2 separate regions of the Homo sapiens genome follow, and region 1 is linked to region 2. Evidence: fine-mapped expression QTL. A gene starts in region 2. The other region holds a variant in brackets. All regions are shown on one strand. Distances are from middle to middle. Region 1 overlaps SLC43A2 (solute carrier family 43 member 2). Region 2 holds the start of SLC43A2 (solute carrier family 43 member 2).

Region 1 (5,366 bases), 34 kb after region 2:
GACGGAGTCTCACTCTGTCGCCCAGGGTGGAGGGCAGTGGCGATATCTTGACTCACTGCAAGCTCTGCCTCCCAAGTTCAAGTGATTCTCCTGTCTCAGCCTCCTGAGTAGCTGGGATTACAGGTGCCCGCCATTATGCCCAGCTAATTTTTGCATTTTTGTAGAGATGGGGTTTCACCATTTTGGCCAGGCTGGTCTCGAACTCCTGACCTCAGGTGATCCGCCCACCTTGGCCTCCCAAAGTGCTGGGATTACAGGCGTGAGCCACCTCGCCCGGCCTCATTTCTTTTTTTTTTTTGAGTCTTGCTCTGTCGCCCAGGCTGGAGTGCAGTGGCACAATCTTGGCTCACTGCAACCTCCACCACCCGGGTTCAAGCAATTCTCCTGCCTCAGCCTCCCAAGTAGCTGGGATTACAGGTGCACGTCACCATGCCTGGCTAATTTTTGCATTTTTTTAGCAGGGACGGGGTTTCACCATGTTCGCCAGGCTGGTCTTGAACTCCTGATCTTGTGATCTGCCCACCTCGGCCTCCCAAAGTGCTGGGATTACAGGCGTGAGCCACCGTGCCCAGCCTCTTTTTTTTAAAACGTAGTCTTGCTCTGTTGCGCAGGCTGGAGTGCAGTGGCACGATCTCGGCTCACTGCAACCCCCGCCTGGGTTCAAGTGATTCTCCTGCCTCAGCCTCCCGAGTAGCTGGGATTACAGGCATGTTCCACCATACCTCGCTAAGTTTTTGTATTTTTGGTAGAGACGGGGTCTCACTATGTTCCCTAGGCTGGTCTGGAACTCCTGACCTCGTGATCCGCCCGCTTCGGCCTCCCAAAGTGCTGGGATGACAGGCGTGAGCCACCGCGCCTGGCCTCACTGTGACTTTTTGGTGTCCTAATGGGTATCAAGTGGTATCTCATTGTGGCTTTGATTTGAATTTCACTATGATTAATGATGTTGAGCATCTTTCCATATGCTTATTGGCCATTTGTATATCTTCTTTGGAGAAATGTCTATTCAGATCCTTTGCCCATTTAAAAAATTGGTTATTTCAAAAAATAGCTGGGCGTGGTGGCACATACCTGCAATGGGAGGTGCCGCTCGGGAGGCTGAGGTGGGAGAATGGCATGAACCCAGGAGACAGAGGTTGGAGTGGGCCGAGATCGCACCACTGCACTCCAGCCTGGGAGACAGAGCGAGACTCCATCTAAAAAAAAAAATTGGTTATTTATCTTTTTATTATTGAGATGTAGGGGTTCTTTATATGTTCTATTTTTTGTTTTTTGAATAACTGTTGGGCACTATGTTTATATATTCTAGATGCAAGCTCTTGATCTGTGATTTGTAAGAAGTTTCTCCCATTCTGTGCATTCTTTTCACTTTCTTGAACTCCTGCCCTCAAGTAATCCCGCTGCCCCAGCCTTCCAAAGTGCTGGGATGACAGGCACGAGCCACCACTCCCAGCCTGTTTTCACTTTCTTTTTTTTTTGAGATGGAGTCTCGCACTCTTGCCCAGGCTAGAGTGCAGTGGATCAATGTCAGCTCACTGCAACCTCCATCTCCCGGTTCAAGGGATTCTCCTGTCTCAGCCTCCCGAGTAGCTGGGATTACAGGCGTCCACCACCACGCCCGGCTAATTTTTTGTATTTTTAGTAGAGATAGGGTTTCCCCATGTTGGCCAGGCTGGTGTTGAACTGCTGACCTCGTGATCTGCCTGCCTCGGCCTCCCAAAGTGCGGGGATGACAGGTGTGAGCCACCGCGCCCGGCTCTCTTTTCACTTTCTTGATGCCATCCTTTGAAGCACAGAGGTTTTAAATTTTGCTGACATCCCTTACTCATTTTTAAAAGTGGGCAAAACAGGCAGCAGTGACTGCAGACAGGTATGTCGCCAAGTTCAAACTCCCTCCGCTCAGTAACAGTTAATTTGCTTGCAGGCAGGCAGGTTTGATAAAACAAAAATTATTTATTTTGGGAGGCCAAGGTGGGAGAAGAGCTTGAGGCCAGGAGTTCAAGTCTAGCCTGGGCAATATAGTGAGACCCCATCTCTACAAAAATAATTAAAGGCCGGGCGTGATGGCTGATGCCTGTAATCCCAGCACTTTGGGAGGCCAAGATAGATGGATCGCTTGAGGTCAGGAGTTCAAGACCAGCCTGGCAGCATGGTGAAACCCTATCTCTACTAACAATACAAAAATTAGCCGGGCATGGTGGTGCACACCTGTGGTCCCAGCCACACAGGACGCTGAGGCAGGAGACTCGCTTGAACTTGGGAGGTGGAGGTTGCAGAGAGCCAAGATTGCATGTCAGTGCATTCCAGCCTGGGTGACAGAGCGATACCCTGCCTCCAAAAAAAAAACCACTAGCTGGGGCATGGTGGCGTGGGCCTGTTGTCCCAGTGACTTGGGAGCTGGGGGGGGAAGATCACTTGAGCCAAGTTGGAGGCTGCAGTGAGCTATGATTGCATTACTGCACTCCCACCTGGGCAACAGAATGAGACCCTGTCTCTCTCTCTCTTTTTTTTTTTTTGACACAGAGTCTCGCTCTGTCACCCAGGCTGGAGTGCAGTGGCGCAGTGTCGGCTCACTGCAAGCTCCGCCTCCCGGGTTCAAGCCATTTTCCTGCCTCAGCCTCCCAAGTAGCTGGGATTATAGGCGCCTGCCACCACATCCGGCT[A/G]ATTTTTGTATTTTTAGTAGAGACAGGGTTTCGCCATGTTTGCCAGGCTGATCTCGAATTCCTGACCTCAGGTGATCTGCCCCCCTTGTCTCTCTCTCTTTTTTTTAACTTTAAAAAGATACAGAGGCAGGGTTTCGCCATGTTGTCCAGGCTGGTCTTAAACTCTGAGGTCAAAGGCAGCACTCTGGGATTGCAGGCGTGAGCCACTGCGTCCAGCAGATCCTGTCTCTTAAAACAAGAAAAAAAGGTTGGGCGCGGTGGCTCACGCCTGTAATCCCAGCACTTTGGGAGGCCAAGGCGGGCGGATCACGAGGTCAGGAGATCCAGACCATCCTGGCTAACGTGGTGAAACCCCGTCTCTACTGAAAATACAAAAAAATTAGCCGGGTGTGGTGGCGGGCGCCTATAGTCCCAGCTACACGGGAGGCTGAGGCAGGAGAATGGCGTGAACCTGGGAGGCGGAGCTTGCAGTGAGCCGAGATAGAGCCACTGCAGTACAGCCTGGGCGAAAGAGCGAGACTCCGTCTCAAAAAAAAAAAAAAAGAAAGAAAGAAAGAAAAAGATTCAAGACAAATGGGGAGTGGTGGGGAGGGTGGAGGGGACATAGATTAAGTCCCCATAAGCAGCCTGAATTTAATGAAATAGGTTGGCATGGCTATCCAGAGGGCAGCCCCCAAGGCCAGGGACGCTGGGTGTGGACAGGAAAGGTTTGCTACACACAGTGTGATGTCTCTTGAGGTTAGAGAACCTGTGCCTCTTTGGGAGGATGTAGTTTGCCCTAGGCCTGGATTTCGGTAGAATGAGCAAGAGTTAGCCTTGAAGTCCTGTTCAGGTGGGCCCCCTCTTGCCCTGTACCCAGAATGAGCTGATGTGAGATGCCGAGAGTGGCTTCGTTGGGAAGAGAGCCCGGACCTTGCTTCCCGTTGGCCTTCCAGGATGCTAACTGCTCGGGCCGAACATCCTGTGGGAAGATAATCCCCTGCTTGTACTGAGAAATTCAGAAGCAGGAGGCCGGGCGCGGTGGCTCACGCCTGTAGTCCCAGCACTTTGGGAGGCCGAGGCGGGCGGATCACTTGAGATCAGCCTGGCCAACATGGTGAAACCCCGTCTCTACTAAAAATACAAAAATTAGCCAGGCATGGTGGCGGGCATCTCTAATCTCGCGACTTGGGAGGCTGAGGCAGGAGAATCACTTGAACCAGGGAGGCGGAGGTTGCAACGAGCCGAGCTCACACCACTGCGCTCCAGCCTGGGGAACAAGAGCAAAACCCCATCTCAAAACAAAGAAAAGAAATTCAGAAGCAGGAATCCTGGGCCAGCTTCATCCTCAGACCGAAGAGAACTGTAGAATTCTGATTGACATCTTCCAAAAACCTACCCTCTCCAAACCAAAAGCAGTTTTTGCTGACATCTGGTCTTTCTGGAATGCTGATATTTTTATTTATAAAATGATGCTATTATCCCCAAATAGATTCTTATTTTTAACAGGCTTTCTCCCTTTGAGGGCTGCCTGAGGCTCATAACTTTGTTCTCTGGCATCTCAGTGTTACCCTGAAAAGACAAGAAGGCTCCTGGGCTCTGCCAGGAGCAGAGAGATAGGGAGGGTTGCCAGCCGGAAAGTCAGACAACTGCTTGTATTCTGCATTACCTCCCTCCTTGGCCCCATCAGCCTCAGTCCATGAAGGAGAAACCTTCAGTGAGCGGTCATTGCCCCTGAACTAATGCCCCTGTGAGTCACACAGGAAGGGGCGCAGGTGAAGAAGGGGCCTCATGGGGCCTAGTTCTCTGTCCCCTCCTCCTCCCCTTCCCTGGTGCATCCTCCCCACTGAGGTTTCTCTGCTTCTTATCTCTCAGCTGCCCAACATGTTCGGCGACCTTCGGTCCACGTTTATTGCCTTGATGATTGGGTCCTACGCCTCCTCGGCAGTCACCTTTCCAGGAATCAAGGTGAGCACGTGTATTTTGCACTGGTGTCTGTGCAGAGGCCTGCTCCAGGCTCCTTCCACCCTCTCTGAAGAGGGAGGCAATTGTGGGCACCCGGGGTGGCCCCTCTCCACCACCCCCACCCGGGCAGGATGCACCTGGGCATCACAGGGGCGACAAATGAAAACCGCGGGGCCTCAGGGGACGGGAATCACGCATGTGGCTGCAGGATCTGCCGCAGGTGCCTTTGCATTTCGGGGCTGGGGCAGGGGAAGGGCGGTGGGTGAGTCTGTTTCCAGTTGTGAGTCTTGCCCCCGTCTCCTCCGTCATCCTGGTCTCCCGCTGCTCCCCTGCTCCCCAACCCCCAGCCTGCTGTTATTGTACCGTTACTCCCCGCCAGCCAAAGCACTGCTCTTGGCCAAGTGTTTCAGCTGTTTCCCTCCTAGGCAGGATTTTGAGCCTGTGGAAGTCACACAGGGTCAGGACGAAGCAAACACCTCACAGTCCATCAGCCCAAGTTCCCCAGACCCTGTGGGTCTGCCAGGGCCCCGTAGGGGCTTCTCCCACCTCTGACCCTCACACTAAGTAAAAGCCCCTTTCCTCGGTGGTGTGTGTGGGAATGCTGTTGGCGAGGAGAGGGGGACACGGTGTGGGCTGGCCACCTGGGCATTGAAGTGGTGGGAGCTGGGACTCTGGGGCCAGCCATCCTATGGACTTGCAGAGATTCTCATGCCCCTGGACTGGGGAGCATCCCGAAAGTTCTTCCTCCTCCTTTTTTTG
Region 2 (5,366 bases):
CTTCAACTTCCGCCTCCCAGGTTCAAGTGATTCTCCTGCCTCAGCCTCCAGAGTAGCCGGGATTACAGGTGTGCGCCACCACACCCAGCTAATTTTTTGTTTCTTTAGTAGAGACAGGGTTTCACCATCTTGGCCAGACTGGTATCGTACTCCTGATCTTGTGATCTGCCCACCTCGGCCTCCCAAAGTGCTGGGATTACAGGCGTGAGCCACCGCGCCCAGCCATTTTTGTATTTTTAGTAGAGACAGGGTTTCACCATGTTGGCCAGGCTGGTCTTTAACTCCTGACCTCAAGTGATCTGCCCGCCTCAGCCTCCCGAAGTGCTGGTATTACAGGTGTGAGCCACCGTGCCCAGCCAGGAACTGGAACTTTATCCTGTTTTACAAATAATAGTTTCTGAAGGATTTTGGCAGAAGTCACATTTACATTTCCCTTAGTGCCCTGGGATGAGATGGGGGCTGGATTTGAGGAACTGAAATCTGAAGGTGGCTCAACAACAGTAGTTGCGGGCCTAAGGGCACAGATGGACCGATTAGGTAAATATGTAGGAGATACAGCTGTATCAGTTTGATGGGGATGCGGTGAGGGAGAGGCAGAATCACAGCGACTGCCTAACAAATGTCTGATGAAAGGATGGTTCTCAGCAGGGCACTGTGAGTCATGCCTGTAATCCCTGCACTTTGGGAGGCTGAGGTGGGAGGATCACTTGAGCCCAAGACTTCAAGACCAGCCTGGGCAACAGGGCAAGACCCTATCTGTACAAAAAATACAAAAATTAGCCAAGTGTGGTAGCATGCACCTGTGGTCCCAGCTACTTGGGAGGCTGAGGCAGGAGGATCACCTAAGCCCAGGAGGTCGAGGCTGCAGTGAGCTATGATCATGCCACCACACTCCAGCAGTCTGGGTGCCTGAGATCCTGTCTCAAAAAAAAAAAAAAAAAAAGAAAAAGAAAAAAGACAGGGTTCTTGGTATCTAACTTCAGTAGACAGTAGTAGTATGGTTATCTGAGAGAAAATGTGGAGGACAGTTCTGGGGGATATTTGAGGCATGTTTGAGCCCTGCAGCGCCGTCAGGCTGCTCAAAGAGGAGGGAAGGGTGAAGAAAGAGATTTTTCAGATGGCAGTTGAAACCTTGGGAGTGGGAAGGGTTCCACAGGGTGAGGAACCGGGTAGGCTACCAGCTGGAGCCGCCCCCCAGCAGGCTGACAGCTCCAAGCGTTGTCTGGGGGAGGTTGCCCTCGCCAGGTGGCCCGGGCGGATTCTAGACAGTAGGGGGCACACTCGGACTGGGGCAGGTGGAGCAAGAGGCGTTTGGGGCTCCCACAGCCCTGGGGTGGTGGTGGGGTTTTATTTTTGGTTTTTATTTTGGTAGAGATGGTTCTCGCCATGCTGCCCAGGCTGGTCTCAAACTCCTGTCCCCAAGTGGCCCTCCGACCTTAGCCTCCCAAACCGCTGGGATTCCAGACGTGGACACCGCGCGGCAGCCCTGGGGTGCTAAGCCAGCCCCCCGGAGCGAGCCAGGGTGACCAAGGCGATTCTGGGGCAGTCAGAGGGTCTTCCCGGGTCGGGTTAGTGCCTCGAATCCGGGGGACGAAGACGGGGAGCTGAGCTTTCGGAGCCCGGGCTTATCAGACGGGGACCCGGAGCCCCCTCGAACCCTCCCTAGCTTGTACCAGCTGGCGGACGTGGCCCGTAGCATCGCCCTGCAGAGGGGACCTTCCCTGAAAGGGACGGGGAACGGGGTGAAGGTGGCCAGCGCGGGCAGGGAGCACCCAGATGACGATCAAGGGTGGAGGGTCCCCGGAGGACCGAGCAGTGCGTGAACACGGGCGGAGAAAGGTCAGTCTGATGGGGGGAGCTCAGGAGACCCCATCCTAGGACGGGACAGACCAGCCCCAAATCCCCTTGCAGATTTCCAAGGGCCAACTTCCAGGGACCGGGCAGACGCCACCGGGGAGAGGGGAAGGGGTCGGTGCATCAGCGGGGGGCGCCACGGCTGGACCGGGTCCGGGATCCCAGGCCCCGAATACGCCGGGACGGGAACCACCGGGGCGGGGGAGCGAGGAACCAGGACCCAAAGCCCGAGGCGGCGGGGACGGCGGCGCTGCGTGGGGAGGAGGCGGGGTGGGGATTCGAGAGTGGAACCACCGTGCGGAGCCGGCGCATCTGGGCGTGGTGACCCGCGCGCAGGGGGCAGCTGGGGACGGCGGGGCGGCCGCGGGAGAGCCCGGCTGGGGGCGCTGGTGGCCCGGCGGCTTCTGGGGGGAGTCCGCTGGGGGCCGGGACGCGGAGCCGGAGCCCCAGCCTCGCAGGGTCAGGCCGCTGGAGAGGCCGCGGGGCGATGTCGCCGGGGATTCCCGGCCGCGCTGTGACTCGGGTTGAAGGCTGCAAAGCCGAGGCCCGGCCCGCAGCGCCCAGGCCCCTCCCGTCCCCCATCTCTCTTGTTTGTCTCCGAGTCCGGCCGGAACCGGCTTCTGCTCGCGGCGGGGCGGGCGGGGGGCTGGCTGCTGATTGGTCGACGCCTGTTTCCAGCCCCGCTCAGCCAATCAGCGGGCGGCAGTGTTTTCTTCTTGGGGTCGGAATAAAAGGGCTGGAATAAAAGAGGGCAGAAAAGGCGCCGGGCGGGCCCGACACACGCCGGAGGAGCCGGGTGAGCTGCAGCAGGGAGGGGATCGCGGCCGGGGCGAGGGCGCGGGGGCAGAAGCGGCCGCCGAAGGGGCGTAGGGAGAAAACGTGGGAACGAGGAGAGAGATGGAGCGATGAGGGGCCGCCAGGGAAGAGATGACGAACAGATGCGGGCTGGGGAATGGAGGCGCGGGGGTCCGAGGCCATGGAAACGGGCGAGTTGCCGGGGGAACGCCCGAGATGGGGGTCGCGCGGCTGGCTCGCGCCACCGGTTTGAACCGGCTCCTCGTCTCCCACGCTGGGTTCGCGTGGCCGCAGCGCCTAGCGACCTAGACGGCGGCCAATGGCGCGGCAGTTCCTGCGCCGTCCGGCCAATGAGCGCGCCGGGGCGGGCCGTTCCGTAGGTCTGGGCGCTGATCTTGTGGTTGAAGAAACCAGCTCTGGGGAAGGGTCTCGGGCGCGGGCGGGAGGGCACCTGTCAGGGTCCCTGGGAGAGGCAGCCCTCGGATCTGCCCCTGCCCACCTCACGCTGCGTTCCATGCTGGCCCCAGGCGATGTCAGTCCTGCTGCAGGCCAGGACTAGTTCCACGGCCCTGAGCATGCGTTAGCCCCTTCTTGCCTCCATGCCTCAGTTTACCTCGGAGTGAGCTGCGGGAGACGTCTCCCTGCCTGGCCGGGGCGGCTCTGTCGTAGCGGAGGGCAGCGGTACGAGCCGGCCGCGGGCTCGGGGTGTCCCAGGTCCGGGCAGGGCTGGGGTTCGCTTCCTCTGCTGCGCGCACCGGCCGCCGCGGCCGGGGAGGGGTGGCAATCCCGAGCCCTGCGGCAGCGGTCGGGGCTGCTGGGGGCGGCCGCAGGGGCTGGGCAAGGGCCGGCCGCTGACGCCGAGTTCTGTGCGCAGGTGGTGCAGAGCCGGAGCCGGAGCCGGAGCCGCGCCGCGCCGCACCATGGCGCCCACCCTGGCCACTGCCCATCGGCGCCGCTGGTGGATGGCCTGCACGGCCGTGCTGGAGAACCTCCTCTTCTCGGCAGTCCTCCTGGGCTGGGGCTCGCTGCTCATCATGCTCAAGTCAGAGGGCTTTTACTCCTACCTGTGTACCGAGCCAGGTGAGACAAGCGCCTGGGGTTGCGGGGGGCTCCTGGAGCTGGGGCTTTGGGAGGGGGCGGGATGGGGGCGAAGACCTAGCGAGCCACAGCACCGCATTGCCCAGTGCCTCTAGGGTATCAGAAGGCCCATCTGATCCTCACCCAGCCCTGCCGGGTACTTGTCATTGCCCCTGTTTTGTGGACGAAGACATCGAGGCTCAGAGCGATCTGTCTTGCGCAAGGCCGCAGAGCCTGGGCCTGCCATCCACCCAGAACCCCACCTGCTGTCCAGGGTGTTCCTTCCACCCGCTACGAACAGTGCTGGACTGCTCTCCTCTCCTCCCAGCCCTGGAACATAGCTTGGCTGGTAGTAAACATGTTGCTGTCTGCTTGTGAGAAAGAGGAACTCCAGATTAAGGGGCTGGGGTGCAGCAGGAGAGGAAGTGGCCTTGCCTCCACCCCAGGGAGGGCTCATCTAGAATCTAGACGTTCCTCAGGCCATTGTGGAGTCTCCTAAGTGCTTGCTGGACACAATTTCTTGTCTATTTTTGCTGCCTTATGATTCTCCAAAGGACATTTCCCCCACGGGCTCTGAGGACATCTCCGTGGCTTTCCAACCCCATGGGGATGAAGGGGAAGAGAAGAAAGGAACGTTTATGGAAATGATGCTAGGGTTGTTCTCTCCTCTTTGCCTTGTCACTGGAATTGCTGAAGGCAGGCTGAGGATGCTTCTCTACATGACATCTGCACCACCCAACACACACTTACCTTCACACCTTCATACCCTGTTGGAGGGTCCTGATGACTACAGGGCAGTAAATTCAGCCCCACAGGAGGGCCACAGCAGCCCCCAGCCTCTAGCCTCCTACCCTCCTTCTTAGGCAACCTTGACAGGAAATTTTCCCTCTGCCTTCTCCTTGATCCCAACGGTAGCTGCATAATAGCTGAGCTCACATAATCCCTGTCGCCAGTGCTAGAGTGCCCTTAGATGGAGGTAGCCCAGGTTTGACTTCCTGAATCCCCAGCAGCAGGCCTTTTCTTTCTAGAGCTCTTTGCAGGAAGAGAAAGCTTTGGACCAGCTCATGCTGGGTGTAATCCTTTGTGGAAGCCTCCCTGTTTCCCTTCTCTGATCTGCCCCGGAGATTCCTGTGTGTCCCAGTCTCTAGGGAGGGAGGCTTAGCTGGAGAGGTTCAGGGCAGGAGAAAGCAGGAGAATGCAGAGGCCGCGGGGAGAGGACAGAAAGTATATCATTTATAACTAACCTTTAGCCTTTAGCCACTCAAAAATATTTCCTAATAGCCTAAGGGTTCTTGGCAGGTCTTTCCCCACATCAGCAAGAAATCTTGGGAGTTGGGAAGAGTCAGACCTTGTTCCCTGAACAAGCTTTCTGCTTTGGCCAAGAGTTGTTAGGAGATTAATGCCTGTCCCCGAAAGGCACAGGTTGGAGTGTTTACTTCTTCCTCTCCTTTCCTCTCTCCCCCCTTAGAGATCGTGACCCTTCCTGCTTGCCTCCCTGGTGGGCTCTTTCAGGCTGGACACAGGGTTTAAAAAAAAAAAAAAAAAGCAGAAAAAAAGTCATCGTCCCCAGAGAAAGCTTTTAGTGTCTCACCCAGACCAGAGAACTGTTGTGGGCAGGTGTTTTTTTGTGTGTTTTTTTT

What was found. PIP is the estimated chance that this variant, and not a neighbour inherited with it, causes the effect.
Region 1: its variant is the best candidate, but not a certain one, in a credible set for the expression of SLC43A2 in whole blood (INTERVAL, PIP 0.63).

Annotation. Positions count from the first base shown.
Region 1 is chr17:1,592,431-1,597,796 of GRCh38, reverse strand. It overlaps SLC43A2 (solute carrier family 43 member 2), which reads left to right. Exons shown (of 14, transcript NM_152346.3): 6 at 4,518-4,610. Among named protein-coding and RNA genes, the nearest start is that of PITPNA, 32 kb to the right of the region's middle. RefSeq lists an enhancer at 3,661-4,162. The variant A/G (reference allele first, on the strand shown) is at 2,664.
Region 2 is chr17:1,626,078-1,631,443 of GRCh38, reverse strand. It overlaps SLC43A2 (solute carrier family 43 member 2), which reads left to right and starts at 2,610. Exons shown (of 14, transcript NM_152346.3): 1 at 2,610-2,650; 2 at 3,524-3,729. The coding sequence starts at 3,570. RefSeq lists enhancers at 3,362-3,899, 3,900-4,437.